2 separate regions of the Homo sapiens genome follow, and region 1 is linked to region 2. The links come from fine-mapping of genetic effects on gene expression. A gene starts in region 2. The other region holds a variant in brackets. All regions are shown on one strand. Distances are between the middles of the regions. Region 1 overlaps NLRC4 (NLR family CARD domain containing 4). Region 2 holds the start of SRD5A2 (steroid 5 alpha-reductase 2).

Region 1 (8,533 bases), 660 kb after region 2:
CTCCAATTAAAAGGCAGAGATAATCAGATATTCAGAACTTTTTTTAAAGCAAGACCCAGTTTTATGCTGTGTACAAAAGACGTGTTTGAATGACAAAGACACAAATATGTTGAGGTAATGGAAAACTATTTTGCATGCAAACATTAATTATATAATAGTACCAGTCTAGCTAAGAATTGCTTAGTGCTTTTCTTCACATATTATCACTCTTGCTTAATCTAGCTGAAGTTTTTTCTGTCAGGGCTAGAAAAATCTCCTTTTTAAAAAAATCAGACAAGTTTTTCATGAATATGTACTCTTGTTATAATATTGGCTATTATTATTTTTAATCAATCATATGAGCCCTTTTCTTAAAGTATCTTCTGGGTTTTGTGCTCTACAATAAAAAACCTGCTGAACTTCTCTTTAAAAGAGTACGTTTGCTATTTGCAGTTCTAAGCCTGTCTCTCCCCATCAGTAAGTAGAGAAATAAAGGCATGTGCTCATTGTTCTCATATTCCCAGTACTTATCCAGCCTTTTTCAACTGTGGGTTTCTCTAGCTGTAACTTTATATTAGTATACAAATGGCTTCCTTAGTTATCTTTAGAGACTCCCAGCAGTTATATAGTTTAACTTTAAAAAGATTATACCACTGTTTTCCAAAATCTAAATTTTAAAATATGTCTGAATTACACATGTATAGTTTATCCAGAAATATGCAGTTAGTTTCCCCGTAGTTGATATGCATCCCTTTGGGAACTCAGAAGGCTCAATTATCATATCATGCACATTAACTTCATCTTAACAGGGCAATGGGTAGGAATTAGAAGCCTGAGATCATTTAAGAAAATCTTTATCTCTCACTTCTCAATCATTTATCCATTCATTTAAATGTTTATTAGGCAGTAAATTATATGACCGGTTGTGTGGCAAGTTTCAAGCACCTATTTCTTATTTTCTTCCTTTTCACTTTCTCTAAAAATTACATCTTCAATTATTCTGAAATTCTCCCCTATTATCCATCAATAGTTGATTTAATTCTAATATGGAGAAAAATCATTAAAAACAATCTGCTTATTATCGAGAAGTTTTTATTTTCCAGTTTTCCTTAAAATTAAATTTCCATTTGAGACATTTAGTGTGAATTAGTATAATAGTATCACATGTTCTGTTATACTGTCCTCATTCAGTTAATGGAAGCAACAGTTACCTAGGATTTTCACTGCATTTGCAGACAAGCAGCAGGAGACTAATTGAATTTCTTCAAGGTCACAGGGTTCACTTGACAGAGACTTGACTATGTAATCCATTCCCTCTCCAATGTCAGACAAGTGGGTCAAATGAAATAAACACATCTTCTTCAGGTTTTTCAGGCCTTCAGCTGAAAAATGATAGAAAGGAATGCATTAGGATACCAAGTTAATTCGATTTAAGCATAGATTAATGAACTGAAAAGAAAGCAAAGAATAATTGTGCAGAGACCTTGCCATGTTCTTCCTGCAGCGACTTTAAGTTACAAAGAATCAACGAGAGCTTTTTTTCTTTCAATTCTCACTTTCCAGTCTCTTGGACCACACAAAAAATCACTTATATGGAGGTTATTCTCTTAGTAGCATGAGAAACACTGTAGTAAATTTGTAGTCTTTTTAATGGGCATCAATGTATACTCTTACCGTAATTCTTTACATGAATGAAGTCTTCTAGAGCACTCTCCTTTCAATCTTCTCAAAAATCTTAAACAGCGGGGGGGCTGAGTTCAGGGAGGTAGATGAGGACTTGGCTCCTTGGAGTGCTTCTAGTGCAACTGTCTACAGCCTCAAAAGCCTTGCCTGGACTCATGATATGGGGCCTGCCTGAAGCTTTAGAATGAAGACCACATCCACTGCAGCATGTTTAACCAGAAGAAAGATTTACCTTATATCAACAGTATAATTGGAAACATTCTAAAATATCCCCCGTTCTTAAGTCTAAAGCTAATGTGCAGTTTAGGATTGGTTAGGCCTCACTTTGTGTCATTAAAATACTGTCTTATCTTGATGGTACTGTAGCCTACGGGAAAGAAATATATGATTTTAATGACCAGGCATGGTGGCTCACACCTGTAATCCCAGCACTATGGGAGGCAGTGATAGGCGAATCACCTGAGGTCAGGAGTTCAAGACCAGCCTGTCCAACATGGCGGAACCCCATCTCTACTAAAAATACAAAAATTAGCTGGGCGTGATGGTGCACACCTGTAATCTCAGCTACTTCGGAGGTTGAGGCATTAGAATCGCTTGAACCCAGGAGGCAGAGGTTGCAGTGAGCCAACATCTCACCACTGCACTCCAGCCTGGGCGACAGAGCGAGACTCCCATCTCAAAGAAAAGAAAAGAAAAGAAATAAAATATATGATTCTAATAATATCAGTCTTGCAGAGCTTTCGGGAAGGTTGCAGATAATGTACGTTAACATATTTAATGTGGTGCCTGGCACATAGTAAGTGCTCCATAAATGTTCATTGTTGTCATGGGAGTATATACCGGTTAAAGGTTGTGAGCATGAGCTTTGCAGTCAGTTCCTGGATCCCCTACTTAATAATTATAAACTTGGGCAAGTTATTCAATCTTTTAGCTGAAGCGTTAGGGATCATTATATCTATGTACTAGGACTGTTGTGGGGATTCAATGGAATGAGGTATATAAAACTGCCGAGGCTAGTGTCTAATCTATAGCAGAGTAACTCTTTAATAAAGAGTAAATTATTACTGATATAATTAGACTGGTTTAGTCAAGTTCACATTTTGATTCCTTAATAGCAGAAGCAGGCTATCCTAGAGAGGTACTTTTTGACCTCTTTCTACCAGTTGGTAAGATCTTGAGCAAGTCAATAAGCTATTTTAGGTTCTAGTGGAGTTTTCTGTGAAATGAATGAGTTGAATTAGATGCTCTCAATCCCCTTCCAGCTCTGATTTTCTGTGTAATTTATACACATGCAATAAATGTTTATTGAACACTGAATTAATTTGATTATTCTCACGTAGGACATATAAGGAAAAGAAGTCAGCCATGTTTTGCTTTTGTTTTTGTTTTTGTTTCAAGATGGAGTCTATCTCTGTCACCGAGGCTGGAGTGCAGTGGAGCAATCTCGGCTCACTACAACCTCCTCCTCCTGAGTTCAAGTGATTATCCTTCCTCAGCCTCCCAAGTAGCTGGCATTACAGGTGCATACCACCATGCCCAGCTAATTTTTGTATTTTTAGTAGAGACAGGGTTTCACCATGTTGGCCAGGCTGGTCTCGAACTCCTGAACTCAGGTGATCCATCTGCCTCGGCCTCCCAGAGTGCTGGAATTACAGGTGTGATCCACCATGCCCAGGCTTCAGCCATGTTTGGCTTATAGGCTAGAGTTGTCTTTCGGCAGGAAGCAGAATAAGAAAGAACAAGATGAAGGGAAGAGAGGAGTATTTTAGTGAGGACTCAAGTAGGGAAAAAAAGAGCCAAAAAAAAAAAAAAAAAAAATCCAACACACGAGAAAACAGGGACATTCAAGGAAAGCAGCTTTAACAGGAATCCTCCCTGGCCTGCAGGGCCTGGTTCCCTGTGGTAAGCCATGTGTTCTGCTTGTGTTCCTGAAGTTTCCTTTTCCTTTTCATTTTTTTGATTGGGGAAACACAACCTGCAGTGTAGAATGAAAGCATGCTTCCCCCAAAGTTTTCTTGATTCACATTGTTTCCTGTGTCCTATTTCATTTATGAATTTTTTTAACTATGAAACCATAGTATAAACTTTAAAATATTGTTTCTATGCAACTATGAAACTATACTATAAACTTTAAAATATTGTTTCTATGCATTAAATAAAAACATAGCCAATGAGCCAGGGAGACGGAAGTTAAAAACACGTCAGGGGCTCTCTTCCCAAAAGGGTTACCATCTGGTGTTGTACAATTTGAATAAAATGATGCTGAAGGATTTTAATGGCAGTAGGGAAAATGTCTGGGGAAACCAATGTAGCCACAAGTACATAAAAACATCCTTGCCTTGTGCAGACACAGCCA[A/G]TGTCAGAGCCTGAAGTTAACTCCTCTTATTATCAAACTTACATTGATACAAATATGAGAACAGAAATCTGACCTAGTTTTATAGCATCTTCTTCATTCATCTTTATGTTATCCATTATGAGCTTTGTAAGGTTCTTCAAGTTACCCAAGCTGTCAGTCAGACCACCTGTCAAAAGAAAAAAGATTGGACTCTTTCAGCAGATATTTGCTATTTACTATGTCATTTACTATTACTGTCATTTTTGTTACCAATCAAAAGATTTTAATGATCATCATGAGCCAAAAATGCTCATGAAATAGACATAAAAATATACTTTTTATAAGAGATGGGCATTATACTTCACTGTAAGCATGTTCTGCAAATAATAGACTAGATACCAATTTCCCAGATAACAGGGAAAAAAATTTCCTTTTTTTTTTTTTTTTTTTTTTTTTGAGACAGAGTCTTGCTCTGTCGCCCAGGCTAGAGTGCAGTGGCGCAATCTCAGCTCACTGCCAGCTCCACCTCCCGGGTTCACACCATTCTCCTGCCTCAGCCTCCCAAGTAGCTGGGACTACAGGCACCTGCCACCACGCCCGGCTAATTTTTTTTGTATTTTTAGTAGAGACGGGGTTTCACCATGTTAGCCAGGATGGTCTCAATCTCCTGACCTCGTGATCCGCCTGCCTCGGCCTCCCGAAGTGCTGGGATTACAGGCGTGAGCCACTGCGCCTGGCCGATAACAGGGAAATTTCTAAACACTTGGAAATTAAACAACACATTTTTAAATAATCATGCATTAAAGAAGAAGTCTCATGGAAACTTTGATAATATTTTGAAAAATATAAAAATAAAAACAAAACTTCAAAATCTGCAGCTCTCTCCTCACAAAGGGGTGAAAAGAAAAAAAAATCTGCAGCTAACACAGTGCTTACAGGGACATTTACAGTATTGCATACTTATATTAGAAATGAGGAAAGGCCTCAAATCAACAACCTAGGCATACTACTTAAGAAATTACAGAAAAGAGAGCAAAATAAATGAAAGAAGAAAGAAAATAATAAAGATAAGGGTGCAAATCAAAGTTATTATGCCTTTATTATACAAATTAAAAACAGAGGCAAGGTCTCACTATGTTGCCCAGGCTGGTCTCGGACTCCTGAGCACAAGTGATCCTTTGGCCTCAGCCTCCCAAAGTGCTAGGATTACAGGCGTGAGCCACCATGCCCAGCCCAGAAATCAAAATTATAAACAGGTAAACAATAGAAAAAAATCAATGAAGCTAAAAGTTGGATCTTTGAAAAGATCAATAAAATTTAAAAATTTCTACCAAGACTGACAAAGAAAAAGAAGACAAAAATTACCAATATCAGAAACAAAAAAGGGGATATCACTACACACACTGCAGATATTAAAAGGACAATTAGAGAATAATATAAACAAATCTATGCACATAAATTTGACAACATATATGAAATTGACCAATTTTTTGAAAACCACAAACTACCAACACTCATGTGATACGGAGTAGGTAACCGGAATAACCTTATAGCTATTAAAGAAATTGAATTTGTTATCTAAAATTTCCCGGAAAAGACATCTGTAGGCACAGATATGTTCACTTGCAAATTCTGCCACACATTTTCATTTTTTTCCTTCTATCAACTGTCTTCATATCTACCACACATTTAAAGAAGAAATAACACCAATTCTACACAGTCACTTCCAGAAAATAGAAGTACAAAGAATAATTCCCAACTCATTTTATGAAGCCATCATTAACTTGATATGAAAACCAGAAAAAGACGTAGAAGAAAAACTTTTAGGCCAGGCACAGTGGCTCACTCCTATAATCCCCGTGCTTTGGGGGGCAGAGGTAGGAGGATCACTTGAGGCCAGGAGTTTGAGACCAGCCTGGGCAATATATCCAGACCCTATCCCTACAAAATATTTTTTAAATTACCCAGGTGTGGTGGCAGGTGTGAGTAGTCCTGGCTACTCAGGAGGCTGAGGCAAGAGAATCGCTTGAGCCCAGGAGTTCAAGATTGCAATGAAGTGTGATGACACCACTGCACTCCAGCCTTGGTGACAGAATGAGACAATGTCTTTAATGAAAGAAAGAGAGAGAGAGAGAGAATAGAGAAAGAAAGGAGGGAGGGAAGGACGGAAAAGAAAAGAAAGAAAATTGAGGCTGGGCGAGGTGGCTCACACCTGTAATCCCAGCACTTTGGGAGGGCGAGGCAGGCAAATCACGAGGTCAGGAGTTTGACACCAGCCTGGCCAACATGGTGAAACTCCGTCTCTACTAAAAATACAAAAAATCAGCTGGGTGTAGTGGCAGGCGCCTGTAATCCCAGCTAGTCCAGAGGCTGAGGCAGGAGAATCGCTTGAACCCAGGAGGCAGAGGTTGCAGTGAGCTGAGATCGCACCACTGCACTCCAGCCCTGGTGACAGAGTGAGACCCCATCTCGAAAAGAAAGAAAGAAAATTAAACTTTAGACCAATATCATTCATGAATACAGAATCAAAAATCTTCAACAAAATAGAAAATGGAATTCAGTCATGCATAAAAGAATATTACGGCAGGCGTGGTGGCTCACACTTGTAATCCCAGCACTTTGGGAGGCCGAGGCAGGTGGATCACAAGGTCAGGAGTTTGAGACCAGCCTGGCCAACATGGTGAAACCCTGTCTCTACTAAAAATACAAAAATTAGCTGGGCGTGGTGGCGCGCCTGTAGTCCCAGCTACTTGGGAGGCTGAGGCAGGAGAATTGCTTGAACCCAGGAGGCGGCGGTTGCAGTGAGCCGAGATCGCATCATTGCACTCAGCCTGGTGACACAGCAAGATTCCATCTCAAAAAAAAAAAAAAAAAGAATATTACACCACCTCCAAATGGGCTTCATATAGGGAATGCAGGATGCTCAATATGTGGAAATCAATCCATATAATTCATTATATTGGCAGTCTAAAAGTAAAACTACGTGATCCCATAAATTGATGCAGAAAACACATGTGACATAATCCAACATCCAGGCTAGGTGGCTCACGCCTGTAATCCCAGCACTTCGGGAGGCCCAGGCGGGAAAATCTCTTGAGCACAGGAGTCCAAGACCAGCCTGGGCAACATAGCGAGAACTCGTCTCTACAAAAAATTTAAAAATTAACCAGATGTGATAGTTCACACTTATGGTCCCAGCTAGTCAGGAGGCTGAGGTGGGTGGATCTGTTGAGCCCAGGAAGTCAAGGCTACAGTGAGCTATGATCACGCCACTGCACTCCAGCCTGGGTGACAGAACAAGACCCTGCCTCAAAAATAATCTAAAAATAATTTAATAAAAACAATCCAACATCCATCCATGTAAAATGACATGATCATATAAATGGATACAGAAAACATCTTTAGCACAATCCAACACCTATTCATGACCAAAAAAAAAAAATTCTCAGCAACTTGATAAAAGACACCTACAAGAAAACTACATTTAACATTATACTTAAAGGTGAAAGTCTGAATGCTTTCTCCCTAAGGTCAGGAACAAGGCAAGATGTTAATTCATGTCACTATTCAACATTGTACTACAAGTCCTAGTTAGTGAAATAAGGCAAAAAAAAAAAATAAATAAAAGGAATACAGATTGGAAGGGAAGAATTTAAAATCATTCTTTTCGAAGATAACATGATTGTCTATGATAAAAATGTCAAGGAATCTACAACACCCCCTTCTGCAAACCCCACAAAAAAAACCCTTCTAAAACTGGCTGGGTGCAGTGGCTCATACATATAATCCTAGCAGTTTGCGAGACTGATGGGGAGGATCACTTGAGCCCAGGAGTTCAAGACTGGCCTTGGCAACATAGAGAGACCTCCTCTCTACAAAAAAGAAGGAGGAGGAGGAGGAGGAGAGGGAGAGAGGGGGAGGGGGAAGGAGAGGGGAAGGGAGAGGAAGAAGGAGGAGGAGGAGGAGAAGGAGGAGGAAGAGGAGGAGAATGAGAAGAGAAAAAATTAGTGAGGTAGCGAGGTGTGGTGGCACATGTCAGTGGTCCCAGCGACTTAGGAGGCTGAGCATTATGTAGAAAATGGGATTATAGACCGGGCACGGTGGCTCATGCCTGTAATCCCAGCAATTTGGGTAGCCGAGGTGGGTGGATCACTTGAGGTCTGGAGTTCAAGGCCAGCCTGGTCAACATGGTGAAACCCTGTCTCTATTAAAAAATACAAAAATTAGCCAGGCGTGTTATTGGGCGCCTGTAATCCCAGCTACTCAGGAGGCTGAGGTAAGAGAATCACTTGAACCTGGGAGGCAGAGGTTGCAGTAAGCCGAGATCACACCACTGCACCCCAGCCTGGGCGACAGAGTGAGACTCCTTCTCAAAAAAAAAAAAAAAAAAAAAAACAGATGAATAGAGGTCATTATGGTAAGTGAAATAAGCCAGGCACAGAAAGACAGACATCACGTGTTCTTACTTATTTGTAGGATCTAAAAATCAAAACAATTGAACTCACGGAGAGTAGAAGGATGGTTACCAGAGGCTGG
Region 2 (8,000 bases):
TAGGCATTACCATTCAGGACATAGGCGTGGGCAAGGACTTCATGTCCAAAACACGAAAAGCAATGGCAACAAAAGCCAAAATTGACAAATGGGATCTAATTAAACTAAAGAGCTTCTGCACAGCAAAAGAAACTACCATCAGAGTGAACAGGCAACCTACAAAATGGGAGAAAATTTTCGCAACCTACTCATCTGACAAAGGGCTAATATCCAGAATCTACAATGAACTCAAACAAATTTACAAGAAAAAAACAAACAACCCCATCAAAAAGTGGGCGAAGGACATGAACAGACACTTCTCAAAAGAAGACATTTATGCAGCCAAAAAACACATGAAGAAATGCTCATCATCACTGGCCATCAGAGAAATGCAAATCAAAACCACTATGAGATATCATCTCACACCAGTTAGAATGGCAATCATTAAAAAGTCAGGAAATAACAGGTGCTGGAGAGGATGTGGAGAAATAGGAACACTTTTACACTGTTGGTGGGACTGTAAACTAGTTCAACCATTGTGGAAGTCAGTGTGGCGATTCCTCAGGGATCTAGAACTAGAAATACCATTTGACCCAGCCATCCCAATACTGGGTATATACCCAAAGGACTATAAATCATGCTGCTATAAAGACACATGCACACATATGTTTATTGTGGCACTATTCACAATAGCAAAGACTTGGAACCAACCCAAATGTCCAACAATGATAGACTGGATTAAGAAAATGTGGCACATATACACCATGGAATACTATGCAGCCATAAAAAATGATGAGTTCATGTCCTTTGTAGGGACATGGATGAAATTGGAAACCATCATTCTCAGTAAACTATCGCAAGAACAAAAAACCAAACACCGCATATTCTCACTCATAGGTGGGAATTGAACAATGAGATCACATGGACACAGGAAGGGGAATATCACACTCTGGGAACTGTGGTGGTCTCTGTGTTGGTTTTTCTTATAGCATTGGGAGATATACCTAATGCTAGATGACACGTTAGTGGGTGCAGCGCACCAGCATGGCACATGTATACATATGTAACTAACCTGCACAATGTGCACATGTACCCTAAAACTTAGAGTATAATAAAAAAAAAAACATTAAAAAAAAAAAAAAAAAAAAGAGGTGAGATAACTCTTGACTTCAAATGCCTTTGGCAGTGGGATTAGGCAATGTGCTTAGGCAGCAGTCATTTCCATGTGGCTAAAGAATCCAAACAGCCACAACAATAGATTCTGAAGAGAGGAAAGTTATCTGAATTGACCTAACTATGCAATCTCAGCAATTATGATTCCCAAGTAATTGCTAGCTCTCCTACAATTCTGTCTGTACGGTTGTTGTAAGTAGAGTTCATTCATGCATTCAACAAATTCTAGTGAGTACCAACTATGTACCAGCTCTTTGTATACAATGGGGATACAGCCATAAAAGTGAGACAAAAACCTTTGACCCTGTGGAATCTACATTCTTGTGTGCCATCCTTGTATTGAGAAAAGTACAATGAGTTTTAACTTCTATTTGATGGGACATATTGCTGCTTTGAACAGTCCCCAATGGACATTTTGCAAAAGAGTCTGAGCCAAACCTGAGCCATCCTTTCTCCCTGTCTCTCCGTCTTATTCTCTGTCTTAGCAACACACAGCACGAGATAAAGCCAAGACAGCCTGATGCTTGTTCCTTAATGCACCCTCAGTATCAAGCCAAATGACTCCTTAAGCCTCGAAACAGATATGTATGATTATATCAAGACCCTAAAGAATGTTCATAACCTTTGAACCACTTCTGGAAATCCTAAGAAAATAGATCTAACCTTTGAAAAGAATTTAGATGCAAAAAATGTACATCACAGCTTCAATGAACCTAGCCTCACCCCAAGACAAATTAAATGTCCAACTATAAATGAATATATAGGTAAATTATTATTTTTACAGTAGATGAAATAAGCAGATATTAAGAAATCTGTGATAATGTTGGAAAATACTATAAAATGTTAGGTAATTAAACAGAACTAAAAAACCATATATTCAACATAACAAGCATGTGTGAAAATCTACTAAGGAAAAAGATTTGATAGAAATTCTCTAAAACATTAATATTTAATATACTTAGATGTAATTATGAGTATTTTCTACTTTTGGGATTTTTCCATTTTTCATTAGGAAAAAATGTTTTTATAATTTAAAAAATTTTTACATAATAATTTTAAGAATAAATATAGTTTTTAAAAAGCAAGAATGAGGTCGCATTTATCCAACAAGTATACAACAGTTTATTATCATACCTGAAGAGCCTGAGATCTGGAGTCTACTGCCTGGGTTTGAACTCTGATTCCTCGTTATTGTGTGACCTTGGGCAAGGAAGTTATTTAACCTTTTCTTGCTCCAGTTTTCCACCTGCAAAATGGGCGTGCCTACCTAAATGGGTTGGTATGAGGATGAGTAAATTATTTACTCAGAGTGTTTGGCACACAGAGTGTAACACCCTGTAAGCACTCAAATAATAACAGATCACACACTCCAGTGGCTTCAAAGAAAGAATTCAAAAAAGAGGAAAGACAAACATCAGATCCCGATGCCTCAGGAACAAGTAGCTCAAGAGTTGTACTTCCAGTGGGCAATTTTCCCTCAGGCAGAATGAATCTCCAAGTCCTTTACTAATATTTTAAAATTTCCTCTGAAGAAGGACAATATGTAGATATTTGTTTTATGCATAATTACTCCTTTGGGTTTTTTTTTAAATGCACCGGTCATAATGTATTGTGCAAAGTGCCTTTTGATTTCAAAAACAAGCCTAAAGATTACATTAATATGATTGTCACAAAACACTAATCATTAAGATGAAATGACCTCATAAAAATATTGCTTATGTTGCCAACATACAGTAGTTAATTTGAAGATAAAAATAATTGTTGACAAAAATCACATTTCTGTCAAATGTCTGTTCAAAAATCAGTGAAATAAAAAACTAATCTCTTATCTCCTGTATCCAACATCCTTCTTTCTGTGCAAATTAAACCATCTAAATCTGAGTAAAATAAAATCTGTGTAAAATAAAGAATCTTGTTCACAGCAGGCTTTTAGTAAATATTTGTTGAAAGGATACAGTTTAGTTCTTATTACTTGACAACATTTGCCTTTTAAAAAGAGTGAGAATTCAGTTAAGATTGCATAAATATTAAATCTTGACCAATAAAGAAGATTCAGAGGATAAGAGGAAATTAAGAAAGACAGTTTGAAATCCGTCTCTGACACCTTCTTCTCTCGAAATGAGGCATCACTTTCTCTTTACGAGACAGATTATGCCAGAGGCATTCTTTATCCTAATTTCTAATCCAAACTTCCTTGATCTTTTGACCCTAGGAATCTTCTACTCAAAATAAGGCAAAACCTTCAAGGTTTTGATTTCGTTTGATAACTTTTCTCTGTTTATGGGCTCTGTTCTCTTCTTGCATAGAATATCTGCCTACTTAAAACGGCTAAAAGGTCTTAAACCTCAGAGATTCACAAGCTCAGATTTGCATCTTAGCGGGCACCAGCTGTATTGTCTTCTTTCAGTCCCATAACCTTACTCAGCCTCAGTTTCTTTGTAAAGTGGACATAATAAATATCTCTCAAAAGGTTACAACAGAGTTAAGTGAGACCATAGATACTAAACGATTGGGCATGGTAGGCAATTTAACAATGTGTTCGTTCTTCCCTTTCCCTGTGAGACTTTACTGAGGCTGGACAGTCTTTCTCTGAACCCTGACATCCCTTGGTCTCTTTCCTGTCTTTCCTTCCCAGAGCAGAAAGCAAAGTTCTCCTGAACCCGGATTTTTTAAATCTAGAAGAACATTTGAGCTGTAAGTTACCCACTCACATTTCAAGTCCCAGGGAAATTGGAAAGGTAGATGAATTGGTGGTGTGCTTGGTCCCTTTTGGGAGGGGCCTAAGAAGCGGGGACCCTCGCTTGAGTCAGTGGGATCTCACTATATTCTCTTCCCCATCTGTGAAGTCTGGATTTGGGCTCTACCCACCTTCCTCCTTAGACCTGCAAAGACTAAATCAATGAGAACCTCTGAGCTGAGTTTCCCTCGGGAGATGCCAAACGCGTAAGACTCTCCCAAGATCCCAGAACTAATCTGTCCCCACCCTGCAAGGAAAAGGTGAAGGAAGAAAGGGAAGCGGGGCGGGGCGCGATATGCCACAGGTAACCGCCGCCTGCGCGCAGTTAAGGAACAGTCCTGTCCAATAGGTCTCCCCAACCTGAGCTTTCCAGGTCGCCTCCCGCCCGCAGGACCTCTTTCTCTCGAGCAGCCAGAGGATTTGGAGCTGCTGAGAGCGGATGAGGTCCTGGGGGAGTGAAGGCGGCGTCTGTGCCGCAGCCGCTTGTCAACTCTCTAGCGTCCAAGCCCCGGCCCCGGCCCCCGCCAGGTGCGCCAGGCAGGCTGGCCTCCGCGTTCCTCACAGCGCCCCACGCTGCCTCCTTGGCGTTCCTCGGTGCGCGCTCCACGCTGCGCTCCTGGACGCCGGGAGCAGGGCAGTGCGCTGCACTGGGCGCCCGCAAGGGAAAAACGCTACCTGTGGAAGTAATGTAGGCAGAAGAGGCCCAGAAGTACCGTCCCAGGTGGCCCGAAGAGGGAGAGGGGCTGCCGGGCGAGGATCCCCGCGGGCACCGCGAAGGAAGGCAGCTCCTGCAGGAACCAGGCGGCGCGGGCTGGCAGGCGGGTAGCCGCCGGCTTCAGGCTCTCCGTGTGCTTCCCGTAGCCGGAGGGCTTCGCGACGTACAAGGCCAGTGCCCCAAGGGCGACCAAAGTGGCGCTGCCTGCCAGCACTGGGCTCTGCTGGCACTGAACCTGCATCGCGCCGTGTTCCTCGCCGGTGGCCGCTGCCCTCCCAGAAGAGAGCGCGGCCCCCGCAACCCCTTTATGGAGCGCCAGACGCCACCCGTGTCCGCCCCCTCGGCCTTGGCTCCCGCCCCTCCATCCTGCCTCCCACCTCGCCGCGTCCAGCCCTGGCGCGGTTCGCAGCAATACCCCTTTCTCAAGGATGCAGCCGCGGTGGCCGGAGGAGAACGAAGGCCTTCTTAGTTCGCCCGCCCTCTCCACGGCTTTACATTCACCTCCCGCTTAGGCTGTCCTTCCATGACTTGTTCCTCAACTATTAGCGTCTGATGCGCATACTTCTGGAACTAAGACACGGGAAGAAAACCCCACGGGGACGATTCAGCTGGGGTGGTTCTTCCGCCCCAACACACACCCTCTGTGCCGTCGGTCACCACGCAGTCCCACCCTCGAACACCCAAGCCAAGGTCTTTCCATCTCCTCCGGTTCCTCATGCACTTTCACTCCCTCACAGCTCCCACCCAACATAGGACCTTCCTTGGACCCTGAACCATCCTGGCTCTCTGAGCGTCTGCCAGCCCTTCTGCTCTGGGGCGCCGCGCTCCTTAGCCACTCTCAGCATCAGTGCCAGCTCTGCCCCACCACACGCCCCCGGCAGGTACCAGTCTCTCCCGGCCCTAATTCCTCAGCGGTTTCTCTCTGCATCCCCGCACGCGTCCCTGAGCCGCCTGCCTGGGTCAGAGAGGAGCGTCCGCTGAGCTCGGGTGATCATGCACAGATTGGGGCCAGAAGTCGAGATTCTGCGCGTCCTCTCCCGCCACCCCACTCCCGGTCCCCTAGAGTGGCCCAGACTCAGGCTAAAGTCTAGGGCTTCTTTCCTGGGATGCCCTTTCCCAGCTCCTAGAGCCAATGAGCCGTGGCCCATCAGGTGGTGGCCTGGCGACCCCGCTGTTCTCTGAACTCCTGTCTAGCCGTCATACACGCAGACGCGGTTCTTTCTCTCTTCCGTTTCCCACCTTTATGTTATCCTCCAGCCCCTCCGTCTTCTACCTCTTCCGTTCTATGATTCAGCTTCCAGGCTTTCTTGGCTGCCTCCTCCTCTGTTTCCCAACCCTTCTTTTCTTCTCTTCCTTCTTTCTTCGACCCGGCTTTCTCCTTTAGGTTGACCTCCTCTTCCCACCTGCTGTTTACCTCATTCTTTCATCTTCCTGTCCCATCTCCCTTGATTACTTTATCCCTGTTTTCTCCTCTGGTCCCTACTTGGGGCTCCACCCCAGTCCTTCTCATTTTTCACTCTTCCCTTACTTTGGAGGTCTCTTCTCTTCCTTCCCCTTCAACTCACGCCTCCCAGGAGCCCCATTCAGTGTATCTCCATCCACTTCTGCTGGATCAGGCCAGCTGGTCCAATGACAGACACAACCCCTCATCTGCTCCCGTTTGGGGTGTCTCCTGATTCTTGGCACACATGGTATATGGTGATGCTTTAGCACTACAGGGCACCCTCTGCTTGCTGACCAAGAGTCGTTTATCATATTCCCATTGGGTTATAATTAATGCTAATCATACTTCAGTTTTTAATTGATCACCACTTTGGAATCACTCATACTGACCGAAGCATTTTTCATGGAAAAGCCAGGTCTTAGCCATCATAGCCGTTTCAAGCTTTTTTTGCACTGGCTTTAGAGTACAAGTCCAGTCCCAGCTTCCTCAGCTACAACCTGCTTGTTGAAGATGCCCAAATCTAGATTGCCAGCAAAGATATGAGCTTTAGCTCTGCGTTTTCTCCCTGCTGGAAAACTCCACTTACATGTCCTTCAGAGACCTCAAAACCAGCCCTACCCAAAACTAAACCCAGTTATTTTTCCCTCCACCCACTTGGACCCAAATTCTCCTTCTATGTTCCTGAGTGTTACCTCTTCCCTGTCCTCAATTGCCATAGCCTCCCTAGGAAGCTGGCTCATAGACTCAGTAAACAATAGATTTCATGATACCATACAGCATTAGGAGAACAGGCAGTGCACTATTTCAAACCCAGCTCAATGGAATATTTTTTTAAATGAAATGTCTTCTGTCTCAATTTCTTCCTCTCTTTTCTTCCGACTCTGCCCACTTTTTGTCCTCATGATCTTTTCTCCACTATTATAACAATTAGCTTGATAAAACCAGTCATCTTCAGCTTATGCATCTGTGGGTTGGCTGTGGGTCAGAAATCTGGGCTGGGCTTGACTTATCTTAACAATATTCACTCATTCATCTGTGTAACAAGTTAGAGCCCAGCTCCAGGCTGTGTTTGGATGGAGAAACTTAGCTGAGGCTCTCATCCTGGGATGAGTGAGCTAGCTCCACCATGTCTATATAATGTTAATAACAAAAGTACGAGAGTAGAAGAAACACACAAGGCCTCTTCAGGCTCAGGCCAAGAACAAGCACACCCTTACTTCCTATTTATTGTATTGGCCAAATCAAGTCATATGGTGGATTCTAGAGCCAAAGTGAGAGACTATTTGTAAAGTTACATGGTAAAGGGCAGGGATATAGTGGGAGGTAGAAAATTGGAACCAATAATGCAACTGGTCTGTATTACATGCAAGAAGAAAGTGCCCAATTATAAATATACAGCTTGGTTGATTTGCACAAACTGAACACCCTCTTGCAAGCTGCACCTAGGTCAAGATACAGATTATCAGCATATCAGGATCTGTGCTCCTGCCTCCTTACATCCTCCTTCCAGGAAAAAAAAAAAAAACAAAAAAAAAGCAAAAAAAAAACCAAAAAAAAAGCAAAAAAAAAAAACACCACTACCCTGACTTCTAACACCATAAGTTAATTTTGTCTGCTTTTGAATTTCGGGTAAGTGGAATCATACAGTACTTACTCTTTTTAATCAATGTGGTAACATATGCAGACACAGAAATGACTATCGTGAAGGAAAAGGTTTATATCGACAGATCCCTACAAACAGAAGACACAGCACACCACCCAAGACCACATGGAGAAGCACCAGTGTTAGGAGGCAGCTGGAGTGAGGGGTCAAGGTGGGCAAGAGCCTTTACTGTAGTTTCTGCAGGAAAGAGTGGGCATGACAAGGTAATCAGGCTTAGGATTAGCTCGTTTGAATACTTTTAGCAGGCTCTGGGGTACAGCGGCTGTCTTTACTTTTCTGTTACCTGGAC

What was found.
Region 1: its variant is fine-mapped to the expression of SRD5A2 in nasal epithelium (TOPMed, PIP 0.94).

What each region holds. Positions count from the first base shown.
Region 1 is chr2:32,236,942-32,245,474 of GRCh38, forward strand. It overlaps NLRC4 (NLR family CARD domain containing 4), which reads right to left. Exons shown (of 9, transcript NM_001199138.2): 5 at 4,092-4,184; 6 at 1,191-1,361. Among named protein-coding and RNA genes, the nearest start is that of NLRC4, 24 kb to the right of the region's middle. The variant A/G (reference allele first, on the strand shown) is at 4,019.
Region 2 is chr2:31,576,056-31,584,055 of GRCh38, forward strand. SRD5A2 (steroid 5 alpha-reductase 2) reads right to left here and starts at 4,883. Exons shown (of 5, transcript NM_000348.4): 1 at 4,565-4,883. The coding sequence starts at 4,845.